Linked DNA regions of Homo sapiens: region 2 is linked to region 1. Evidence: fine-mapped expression QTL. A gene starts in region 1. The other region holds a variant in brackets. All regions are shown on one strand. Distances are between the middles of the regions.

Evidence for each region. PIP is the estimated chance that this variant, and not a neighbour inherited with it, causes the effect.
Region 2: its variant is the best candidate, but not a certain one, in a credible set for the expression of ZBTB20 in whole blood (INTERVAL, PIP 0.67).

The regions. Positions count from the first base shown.
Region 1 is chr3:115,144,582-115,149,964 of GRCh38, forward strand. ZBTB20 (zinc finger and BTB domain containing 20) reads right to left here and starts at 2,707. Exons shown (of 12, transcript NM_001348800.3): 1 at 2,638-2,707. RefSeq lists enhancers at 1,383-1,492, 3,223-3,432 and silencers at 2,173-2,442, 2,753-2,922, 3,483-3,702.
Region 2 is chr3:114,343,896-114,349,278 of GRCh38, forward strand. All of the region lies in intron 11 of ZBTB20 (zinc finger and BTB domain containing 20), which reads right to left. Among named protein-coding and RNA genes, the nearest start is that of ZBTB20-AS1, 5.2 kb to the right of the region's middle. The variant AT/A (reference allele first, on the strand shown) is at 2,788.

The sequences.
Region 1 (5,383 bases):
ATAGCCCTCACATGAAAGTTTCTCTTTCCTCTAGTATTCCATTTAATCTCGTATTTTCTTTTAGTAGCTAGTCAATGTACACATGACCTATATGTGCATTTTCTTGGTTTTGTAGTAATCTTAAAACACGGGCCTAGATGGGTAAGCATAAAGACTTCTTCCTGGAAATGGATAAAATTTGACAATTTTTAACCTGATACTTTCTTTAGCTTGTTAAAATTAGGACCTCACCGTGAAAGGGCATATTGCTGTGGAGGCTGGTAGGCAGCAAACTTGTCACCTGATCTTCATATGCACAAGGCCTGTATTCCACTGGTCTATAAAATCTGAAATCATAAAACCAAAAATATCCAATTGCCCAACTCACTGAGCAGCTAATATAGTTCTAGAAATCTCACTTTTCTTCTTCTCACCTGTTTACTTCAACACCATGTGTCCCCAAACCTAAGGCCCTCCAAAATTGAGCTCCATAAAAATCAAAACCCCAATCTTGAAAATTAAGCCTTGAGTACTGAACAGTTACATCAGCAATTCCTCAAGGGCAATTTCAAAAGCTTTCCTGGGAGACTACTGGAAAGATGGCACAGGGATATCACCATGCACTATGTGTGCAACAACTTTGATATATTCTAAGAATCACAAAGAACAAAGGCATGAAAATCAATGTAATTTTTTTTCTTTCACTAGAAAAATACAGATTCTTCATTTTAAAGCAAAAAAGCAAAAAGTAGCCACATCTTGACTGGACAAACTTACAGTTGACCCTCAGTATCCATGGGAGATTGGTTCTGGGACCTCTCTAGGAAACCAAAATCCACAGATGCTCAAGTCCCTTACATAAAATAGTGTAGTATTTGCATTTAACCTAATCACATTCTCCCACATACTTTAAATCATCTCTAGGTTACTTATAACACCTAATACAAGTAAATGCCATGTATTAATAAATCGTTGTTACACTGTATTGTTTAGGGAATTGTGGCAAGAAAAAAACTATATATATTCTATTCCATCTATTCCCCCACACCCAAAATATTTTTGATCTGCAGCTGGTTAAATCCACAGATGCAGAACCCAGGCACAGGAAGGGCTGACTGTATGTGACCGGGAGTGGAGGGGGATCTATATAAATATTTCCACAAAATAGCAAAGGGTACTTGGGATTGGGAGCATGAACAGAAATGAAAACAAACCATTATAAATTTAAAGATGACTGGTTATCACTTAAATTTAGTGTCTACAGCTATTTATTTATAAAATGGTAATTGTGTTTTAAAACTTTCAATGGCAACAAGTTACAACAGTAACTTCAGAATAGCGTTCACTTGAAAACATTGGGTGAATGGCCTCTATAATTTTTTTAGCTGAAATGTATACACCGCCACGCAGTGAGGAAACTTGACTTTAGCACCCTTTTGGTATTTTTAATAGAAAAAACAGTGGAGAAGATTTTCACATGTCTAGAAAGGTAACATGTTCAACTTAGGTTTGGCCAATGCTGATTCTGAGGACAGTACTACACCCGCAAGCTTCCAAACTACTTCCTGATTCATTCAGATTTTCATTGGAGAGCTGTCATCCTGCTACTGACCTCATTCAACCCAGTTCGGAGTGAGAGATCAGCGGATTACCGCGCTAGGTACCGTAGCTGTACGCCATATTGTGTTTTTCGCTAATGTTTAGTTTGTGTGTGTGCCTAGCATATGTTTGTGCAAGTGTGTTTATCAATAGAACTTTTAGAAAATCCCTGCCTCCTGCCTCTTCAGCATCCTTAAAAAGGATAACAGCTGGGGGCGGGGGGTGGGGGGAGGACCCAAAAGCCACACAGACAGGAATACATTAAACAGTGTACGAGAGACGGCATTTGTTTTAAACTTTCAAGAACCTTCCAACCATTTTTATATCAGGAATCAAAAAGTGTTAACATGTTTTAATGTTTCCGAAGTGGCCCAAAGAAGAGAAAGAAGGAAAGGTGTGTCTTCCCTTCCCAAGCCCCCTCCTCTCTAGTCGTAGAAGCGAAGCAGGCGGGGGCCGGGAGCTCCGGCGTCTGGAGAGACATCCAGCGGCTGTGGGGCCAGGACACCTCCTGCCCCCCAGTTCTCTGAAGACGCTCCAGAGACCGCGAGAGCCACGGCAAGCGGGGGAGGGCGAGGAGGGAGGGGGCAGAAGACAAGCGGGCGCCTCTAGCAGCTCCTGAGCCCCGGCTAGTCCCCCTCAGCTCCTCTTCTTGGAAGCAGCGGCTCCAGGCGCAGGGAGTAGAGAGAAGAAGGCAGAAGACACGTTTCCAGCTGCGGGACGTCCCGCCCGCCCCGCCACCCTTCGACCCTCCCGCGCCTCCCTCCCACCTCCCCGCCGGGTCGGGCGAGGCAGCCGCCGGGCGCTAAGAAGGGCGCCGGGGGAGGGGGCGCGGGCGGGGCGGGGCGGGGCGGGGCGCGGGGGCGCGCGCGCTCATCCAGCTCAGGGCCCGCTGGCTCGCCGCTCTGTAACTCGCTCCCCCAACCCCACCCCGCTCCCCTCCTTCCCAGTCCCGCCGCCCCCCACTCCAGGCGCCTCGCAGACGCCTCATCCCCCTCGGCACGCACACACTCCTCCCTCTCTCCCGCCCGTCCCACAACAAATTAGAGTTTGTGGCATTACCTCCTCGCGCTCTTTAATCTTCTTTCCTCAACTCCTAAACTTCCCCCCGCCCCTACTTCTTCGGCAGAAGGCCCACATTGGACGCTTCACTCCGCGAACCCTCTATCTCTCCCCGCTATAGGATAGCTCTCACGCCAATCTTGGCTTCAGTGAGCCAATGAGAATGGGACGCCCCTCGTGAGGTTGCCGCCCATAAACAAAATGCACTCTTCCTTCTCCCCTCCGCCCCCCCGTCCCCGCCCCTTTCTTCCTCTTCCCTCATCTCTGTCACCTTCGATTGGGCTAAAAGAGGCCCAATCCGCTATCTCAAACATCCATTGGGACGCGGAAACTTCGCTCAGAGAAGTATTAACAGGCGATTGGTGGACAATCCTTCCACTTCGCCCACCCCCACAACCCCCTCCCCCCGCCGCACCTTCACCCTTTCTGAAAAGGTCAATCGTATCTCGTTGTTCAGTGATCCGGGAGGTGGAAGGCTATTGGTTCAGGGAGCCCGTCAGACCGGACTGGAGTGAGCCATGATTGGTCGACACAGGCGCAATCAGGTTAGGTTGCTTACTCCTCCGCTCCTCCCTCCTTTTCCTCCACGCCCCATCTCCCCCACCCCCTACTGCTTTTACTTTCTACGCATTTCTATTTCCTCCTTTATTTATTTATTTGTGATAAACTTAAATGACCCGGCGACGGAGGCGGTACTCTAGGAGAAGGCTGAGGATGACGAGCGGCGGCCTGGGGCCAATTGCCGAGAGGGCTGCGGGGTGAGGGGCAGCGGCGGTGGCCAGTGAGAGGCAGGTGTCTGGAGCGCGCTGGGCCTGTGGAGCCGGGATGCCCCAGCGGAGGCGGCGGTTACCCGCTGTCTGGCGCGGCGAGCTGCGCCGGGGGAGCCGCGGGAGCGGAGAGGGGGGTGTCGCTGTCTTGGACAGCTGAGGCAGCGGGATGGAGGCTGGATCCCGGGCGGTGGGTGGGAAAGCCGGAGGGAGGGTCTGGCTGGCGGCAGCGCGCAAGGCCGCACCGGGTCACGCTTGATTCCCGCGGAATGGGGCGCAGGTTGCCAGACCGGGTCCCCAGTGCTAGGGCTCAAGGAAGAATTTGTTCATGCAGAAGATTTAGAAAAATACTATGTAAAAGAGTTTGGAGTAAGCCTCCCTTAATATAAATGAGATTTATTATCCTGCCGGAAAAAGCAGATTATGTTTCTTATTACTGAACGCCTGAAGTACCAACGACTCAACCAGAGCCCACAGAATTCAATATCCTGGGTGGTAAAAGGAACAAATAAAGCAACACGGAAAATTAAGTGTGGTTCAAATGCTTCAATAAAATCTTCGTCCTCAACCATTTGTCATTCAACATAGCACTCCCCAGAGCCAAATTCTTACCAAATATTGGTCCAGTACTCAGGCATTGGAGAAAAAAATGAGGCTGAAGTCCAGCAGGAAGCCCAGGATAGATTCCTAAAAAGGATTTCTTACAAGGGCCAAGATGGGAGGGTTGGGGAAATCGCTTTTCACTATACAAAGAAAAAAAAATAATTACTGCCAAACTAAGTTGCACTTTTTTAGGCAGCTGATATAGCAATATTTTGTCACAAAATAAGAGACTTTATCAAAAATACCATGCATGCAAAGAATACACTGTACTTGGGATTTGAAAATGACATTGTTTCTAGGACATGGATTTGATGTATAATTTCCAATAGACTTAAGTCATCTGGATTTTAACCCAGGCTTCTTTGGAACGTACAGCATGCTTTCACATAAGATGCCTGGTTAGAGGTCTTTGACAGAAACTAAGCAAAATAAATTGGCCCTGGTGAAAAAAAAAAAAGTAAGGGCCTTGACCTCATTAATACTATTAAAGCTATCTTGTGAGGATTATATGTATGAGGCTTTGAGAATCCAGAAAATTACTGTGTGTGGTGTCAATTTTGAAGTCTGGGAATTGCTAGTGAGTTTGGAAGCCAAAACACTTTTAAACTTATATATAAATCTTAGCTAAAAAGTGATATTGACTGGGTGCAGCTGCTCACACCTGTAATCCCAACACTTTAGGAGGCCAAGACAGGCGGAACACTTGAGGTCAGGAATTTGAGAGTAGCGTGGCCAACCTGGTGAAACCCCGTCTCTACTAAAAAATACAAAAATTAGCCGGATGTGGTGGCGCACACCCGTAATCCTAGCCACTAGGGAGACTGAGGCAGGAAAAATCGCTGGAACTCGAGGCAGAGCTTGCAGTGAGGCGAGATCGCACCACTGTACTCCAGCCTGGTGACAGAGCAAGACCCTGTCTCACAAAAAAAGAAAAAAATGAAAAAGAAAAAAAGTGATTTAGTAAGAATAATAAGTATTCCATACAGAACAATCAGCAGCGCATGAGAAAAATCAGTAAAATTTAACATTGGCGTTCACACAGTTACTCCTATAACTTCTCCAAGGAGCAATGACCACTCCTTCCAAGTCATTCTTAAAACTTGTTGTTTTCAACAAAATTTTAAAGGTATTATTCAACCTATTGGCATGAGAGTTAAGATTATGATAGGGCACACTAGGAAAGCAATGCAAGATATTCTAATTCAAATAATAATGATAAGGTGAAGCCCTAGGTATTACTGCCCCTATTTAAGGTAGTAGTTATGTCCTGTTCGTGTGATATTAGAAACTGGAATTAGAATCTTTCTGCCTCTAAGAAATCCCTCAATTTTCATATTTACATTACACATCTACATACCTTGATCACACTCAGATAC
Region 2 (5,383 bases), 800 kb before region 1:
AAAATTAGCTGGGCATGGTGGTGGGCGCCTGTAATCCCAGCTACTCAGGAGGCTGAGGCAGGAGAATCACTTGAACCCGGGAGGTGGAGGTTGAAGTGAGCAGAGATGGCACCACTGCACTCCAGCCTGGGCAACAGAGTGAGACTCCATCTCAAAAAAAAAATGGGGGGCCCACACACCTGAGATATCAGCGGTGTGATTGCCTGCCAGCCTTTCTGTTCATTCCCTGGGATGTGATCCTGTTGCCAGCTTGGACTGTGAGGCTAAGAGGGACTGCCTATTGGGAACATGCTGCATTCACAAAATATCTGTGGCTTCAGTGACAACTAAGATATTTTAGTTTTAAGCAGAACTTTGGAGAGTTTCATCCATGCTACTTGACTTTTCTTAAAATTTTGTGAATAGAGTGGATATTAACATCCCCAGAAAATAGCATCTCCAAGTAGAGAGTTGTACTAACATCTTGAAGGTCATCTAAGAAGTCAGTAGCACCTGAGAGTATAATACTAGCCCAACCAGATTATCTTCCTCTCCCTTGTTAACAACTCCTTGTTCTCTGGATTATGCTGCAAAATGTATGATGCTACTATAACACATATTAATGGCTTTGATAGTTTTACAGCATTCATAATTAAGTGTTTTCACATAAATTATGTTATTCAATTCAAAGAGCAATCATGTAAAGTAAGTACTACAGATCTGAAAAACTGAGGCTTAGGTCAGTTACAGAACTTAGCCAAAGTGACTCAGCCAGAAAGTGGTAATATCATGGCCTTCTCACTCCAAGCCTTATACTTGTTACTTTACACCCACTGGCTTGATATAATTAATAGTCCAAGCTCCATATGAGGATTAACACATTATCTTCATATGACTATTATGGCCCAATCACCAACATTGTTATGCTACTATTGTTACTATGTCTATTTACACTGAATTCATGGCTGAAATAGCTGAACTTCTCAAAGTAATAAGCAAAATTACCGTATGTGCAGAGGATACCAATGGGCTAAAAACAGTCACCAGTGAACGGGCTGTTGATAATATGATTCAGAAAACGCCAAAATATTTATCTCTTGTGGGTAAAAAAAAAACACGAAAGTGTGAACACAGATATGTGTACAATATATTCTATAGCAAATAAAAAAAGAGAAAAAACAAAGAAATTTAAAACTCTTGCTGTGAAAAGAATGTATCTGTGTATAAGTCCCTTGAATTAAATTCTCCTGGAAAGCGTGTTCACATTTTAAAATTTTCTTTTATTTATTTTATTTCAATAGTTTTTGGAGATCAGGTGGTTTTCGGTGAATGTGCACATTGACCAAATGAATGGGCATGTGAAAGTGTGATATACATGTATATATACGTGTGTGAAATGTATGTCTCTGTGTGTGTGTGTTTCCGCTCTCACAGAGTTTACATTCTAAAGGGAAGGTGTAAAGATAATACATGATGATATGAATAATACAAGTCAGTCCTGCTAAATACCAGAAGGGATACATTTGCCATGTGACCTATGTAATTTGGAAGACTCAACTTACCTCATATGTGAGTGATTAGTTTCTGTGATATAATTTATCCACTACAAAATCAAGCTTTGATCCATAATTTTGATTTACTTTTTCTAAACAGATTCTTATTAGTGGAATTTTAAAAAATGTTATGTAACAAAAGCAACCTGATGCCATTCTTCTAATTACCCAGGCTCACCTCTCTAGGGAATTGATTCTCAACTTCAGCATGAACCAGGGCTTGTTACACAGATTTCTAGGCTCCATTGCCTGAGTTTCTGATTTAGGATGTCTGGGGTGGGGGTGAAGGGTGGGGGAACATAATTTGCATGCTGCTAGTGTAGGGATCACACTGCTCCAGGGTTATCTTTGAATTTGCCCTATTGCTTGCCTTCCACATCCATGTTGACACCAAGGCTTATCCTTCTTGTATTCTCTGTCTTTCCCTTTCATTTCCATTCCTTTATTTGACTTCTGCTTTTTTCTCTTGATGAAGGGGGTAGAGGGGAGCACTGCTTTCTTCCCTGACAGGATGGTTTGTATTATCTTTGTTTTTTTCTCTCTAATTCTGTTGCTTTCAAACATGCCCTTAACTCTTAGTTTCCTTTCTCACAACTTTTATGAAGCTGCAGTAAGTGAATGAAAGAAACTCCTAGAGATAAGGAAGTCCTCCGTGGTTTGTTTAGCAGTGGATAAAGAGTGGTTAGGTGAGCAATTTTCTTTTACTGTTATAAAAATTGTTAAGAAATAAAAAAATTCTTGTTATGAAGAATATTCAAGAGCAATCTAAGGAGTATAAAGGAGTTTCAGAGTTTAAATTCCAAAGAGGAAGGACACATGTCAAGCATGTATTATTCAGAGACAGGAAATAGAGCAAAGAAACTAAGTGTCTCCTGGGTAGTAGGGGCGAAAAGTAATAATGATGAGGATTTTTAATTTTTCTAATTAAGTAACACTTTGCCTCTTCTGAAAAGCTCTCACATGCATCATACGTTTACATCAAAAGGCAGAAAAAATCATTTTTATTTTAAACTCAAAGAAATAGACAGTTGTGAAATTAACTGATTTGTTGAAGGACACACAGGCATTTAGAGGAAACAAAACTGGATCCAAATCATCTAATTACAGTACAATCGTCTTTCATTTATGCCTCTACTTTAAATTTTTGGGTTATAATCACTATGAAATATGCTTTACAACTAAAGCTTCCTTGATTCTTAAAGGTAGAGCTTAGCTCCAAAGCCAATATGATGGACTACTTCTTTGTCTCAAACAG[AT/A]TTTTTTTTTTTTTTTTTTTGATACAGAGTCCTGCTATGTTGCCCGGGGTGGAGTGCAGTGGTGTGATCTCCGCTCACTGTAACCTCTGCCTTCTGGGCTCAAGTGATCTTCCCATTTCAGCGTCCCAAGTAGCTGGAACTATAGGCATGCAGCACCATGCCTGGTTAATTTTTATAGTTTTTGTAGAGCTGGGGTCTTGCCAAGTTGTCCAGGCTGGTCTCAAACTCCTCGGCTCAAGTGATCCACCCACCTTTACCTCCCAAAGTCCTGGGATTACAGGCGTGAGCCACCATGCCTGGCCCCAAACACTTTCTTTCATGAATGTGGATCATTAACATAGAGCAGTACAAGATTTTAATTGGAATATGAATCTTATAATTTATTCTCTTCAGGTTTTTTTTTTTTTTTTTTTTTTTTTTTTTTTTTAAGAGATAGGTACCCAGGTTGGCCTCGAAACTCCTGGGCTCAAGTGATCTTCCCGCCTCAGCCTCCTGAGTATCTGGGACTATTGGTGTGTACCATCACACACAATTTATATCTGCAGTTGTTGAAAGCAACTACCATCTATATTAAACTTTGGAGTTACTGAATTGCTAAGACAGTTACTCTGCAGGTCTATTGGTTTGCATAGCAGCTGTAATGGAGAGAACTCAAATTTCTTTTTAACTTTGTCAAGCTATTCTTTTTTTTTAGGACTCTTTTTGGTTAGAGTATGGGTGGGAACACAGAGTCCAACTCTACTCTTACAAGTATCCCCGTGCTTTCTAGAATCTTTTTATACTAACATTTGGACTTTTTGCTTTGAATTTTTATCACTTCCACTGGGCTCTTGGAAAGTTTTGAGGCTCCATTTTTTTATGTTTTCCCTAGAAATTGAAAAGAACTTTGTTTGGAAATGCGAGCTACAATGAACCCAGGTCTTGAATTATTTCCACATGTTCCGGCTGTCTTGCTTTTTGAAATCTAGACCAATTGTTCTAAAACTTTGTTAGGTTAGGGGATCCTTCAGTTAGACAATAGTCTTGAAAGACTGATAGGATTTCCAAACTGCCACTGCCAAATAATTCTGGAATGAAAGGGAAGAGCATTACTTCTTTTAAATTAGGTGCCTGATTGATATATGCACATTATTATTTTCAGATGGGGCTATATTATACACACCATTACAATAACATTCATAATTTACTGAGGATGTTCATAATTTACTAGAAAACTGAAGTCCACATTTTAAGCATAACTCAGATTTATAAAATGACTCTACCTATAGCTTTTGCATCTGTGTCTGAGTGCACAAATCCTTTGCTGGTTTTCTTATGTCCAAATCTAGTTATCTCGGTTAACCACAGAATCCTTCAGTGAATCCATTGGAGAAATGTATTTATACATCACGAAGATACTTTTTGGTAGTACATTGAAAATTTTATGTTGCAAATTTAAAGACTTATTTTATTATGTGATCTAACAGAATGTGTGAATTTTACATCTGATAGGTCTACTTGAAGAGATGTACAGAGGGGAGAGCAGATATGTTTATGGATCCAAGACCAGCAAAGTCAACTTTGGTTAAGGAGATACTTTCACAGATGGTCCTTCCTGCACCCCTCCCCCATGTTCCTTAATTTAATGGCTTATAAATCAGCTATCCAGGGGAGGAAAGGATATAAACTATGTGACAGCACTCTATAAATCATAAGATGCTACAAAATAAAAACATTACTATTTGATTAATTCACCTAATAATGGTGATATCCATACCATATGGAAAATTTCTTGTGATTTACCTCTGGTTATTAGTACATTCACATTTATCCCAAGTAAACAAAGCAACTCACCACTACCCAAGTTTCTTCATAAATTCAGTAGTGAGTCACTCTGTTTATTTGGAAGTGTGAATACTGTGATCTTTAAAAACTGATTCTCATAAAAGTACATACATTAATTTACATAATGTCCTGACTTACATTACCCTGCAAAGAAGGCAAAGTTCATCTTAAGCAACGTTCTGTTTCAGTTGTACAATTCCATGTTTGATGCCTTGCCTCTATCTCTGTTGCTTTCCTTCCCTTCAGTCCCCAATCTAAACTTCACTGTTTTATGTCTTCTCTCTTGGATTCCTACTAGCTGATCTGAGAAACAAGGTTGTTTTGAGAAACTAATTTGTTTTCATGTATCAGAATTCGAGTATGTAACTTTTCCCTGGTAAATTATTTGTCATTTAATAAGGGTATTCTGAGGCCAGGCACAGTGGCTCATGCCTGTAATCTCATAACTTTGGGAGGCTGAGGCAGGCAGATGGCTTGAGCTCAGGAGTTTGAGACCATCTTAGGCAACATGGTAAGACCCTGTCTCTACAAAAAATAAAAAAGTTAAATGAGCGTGGTGGCATGTGCCTGTAGACCCAGCTACTTGGGAGGCTGAAGTGGGAGGATTGCTTCAGTCCGGGAGGTTGAGGCTGCAGTGAGCCGAGATCATGCTACTGCACTCCAGCCTGGGCGACAGAGTGAGACCCTGTCTCAAAAAAAAAAAAAAAAAAAAGAATTTCAAATATAATGATCATCACTGTTATAGGTATTCTTAGGTCCAAGAGAATCTAG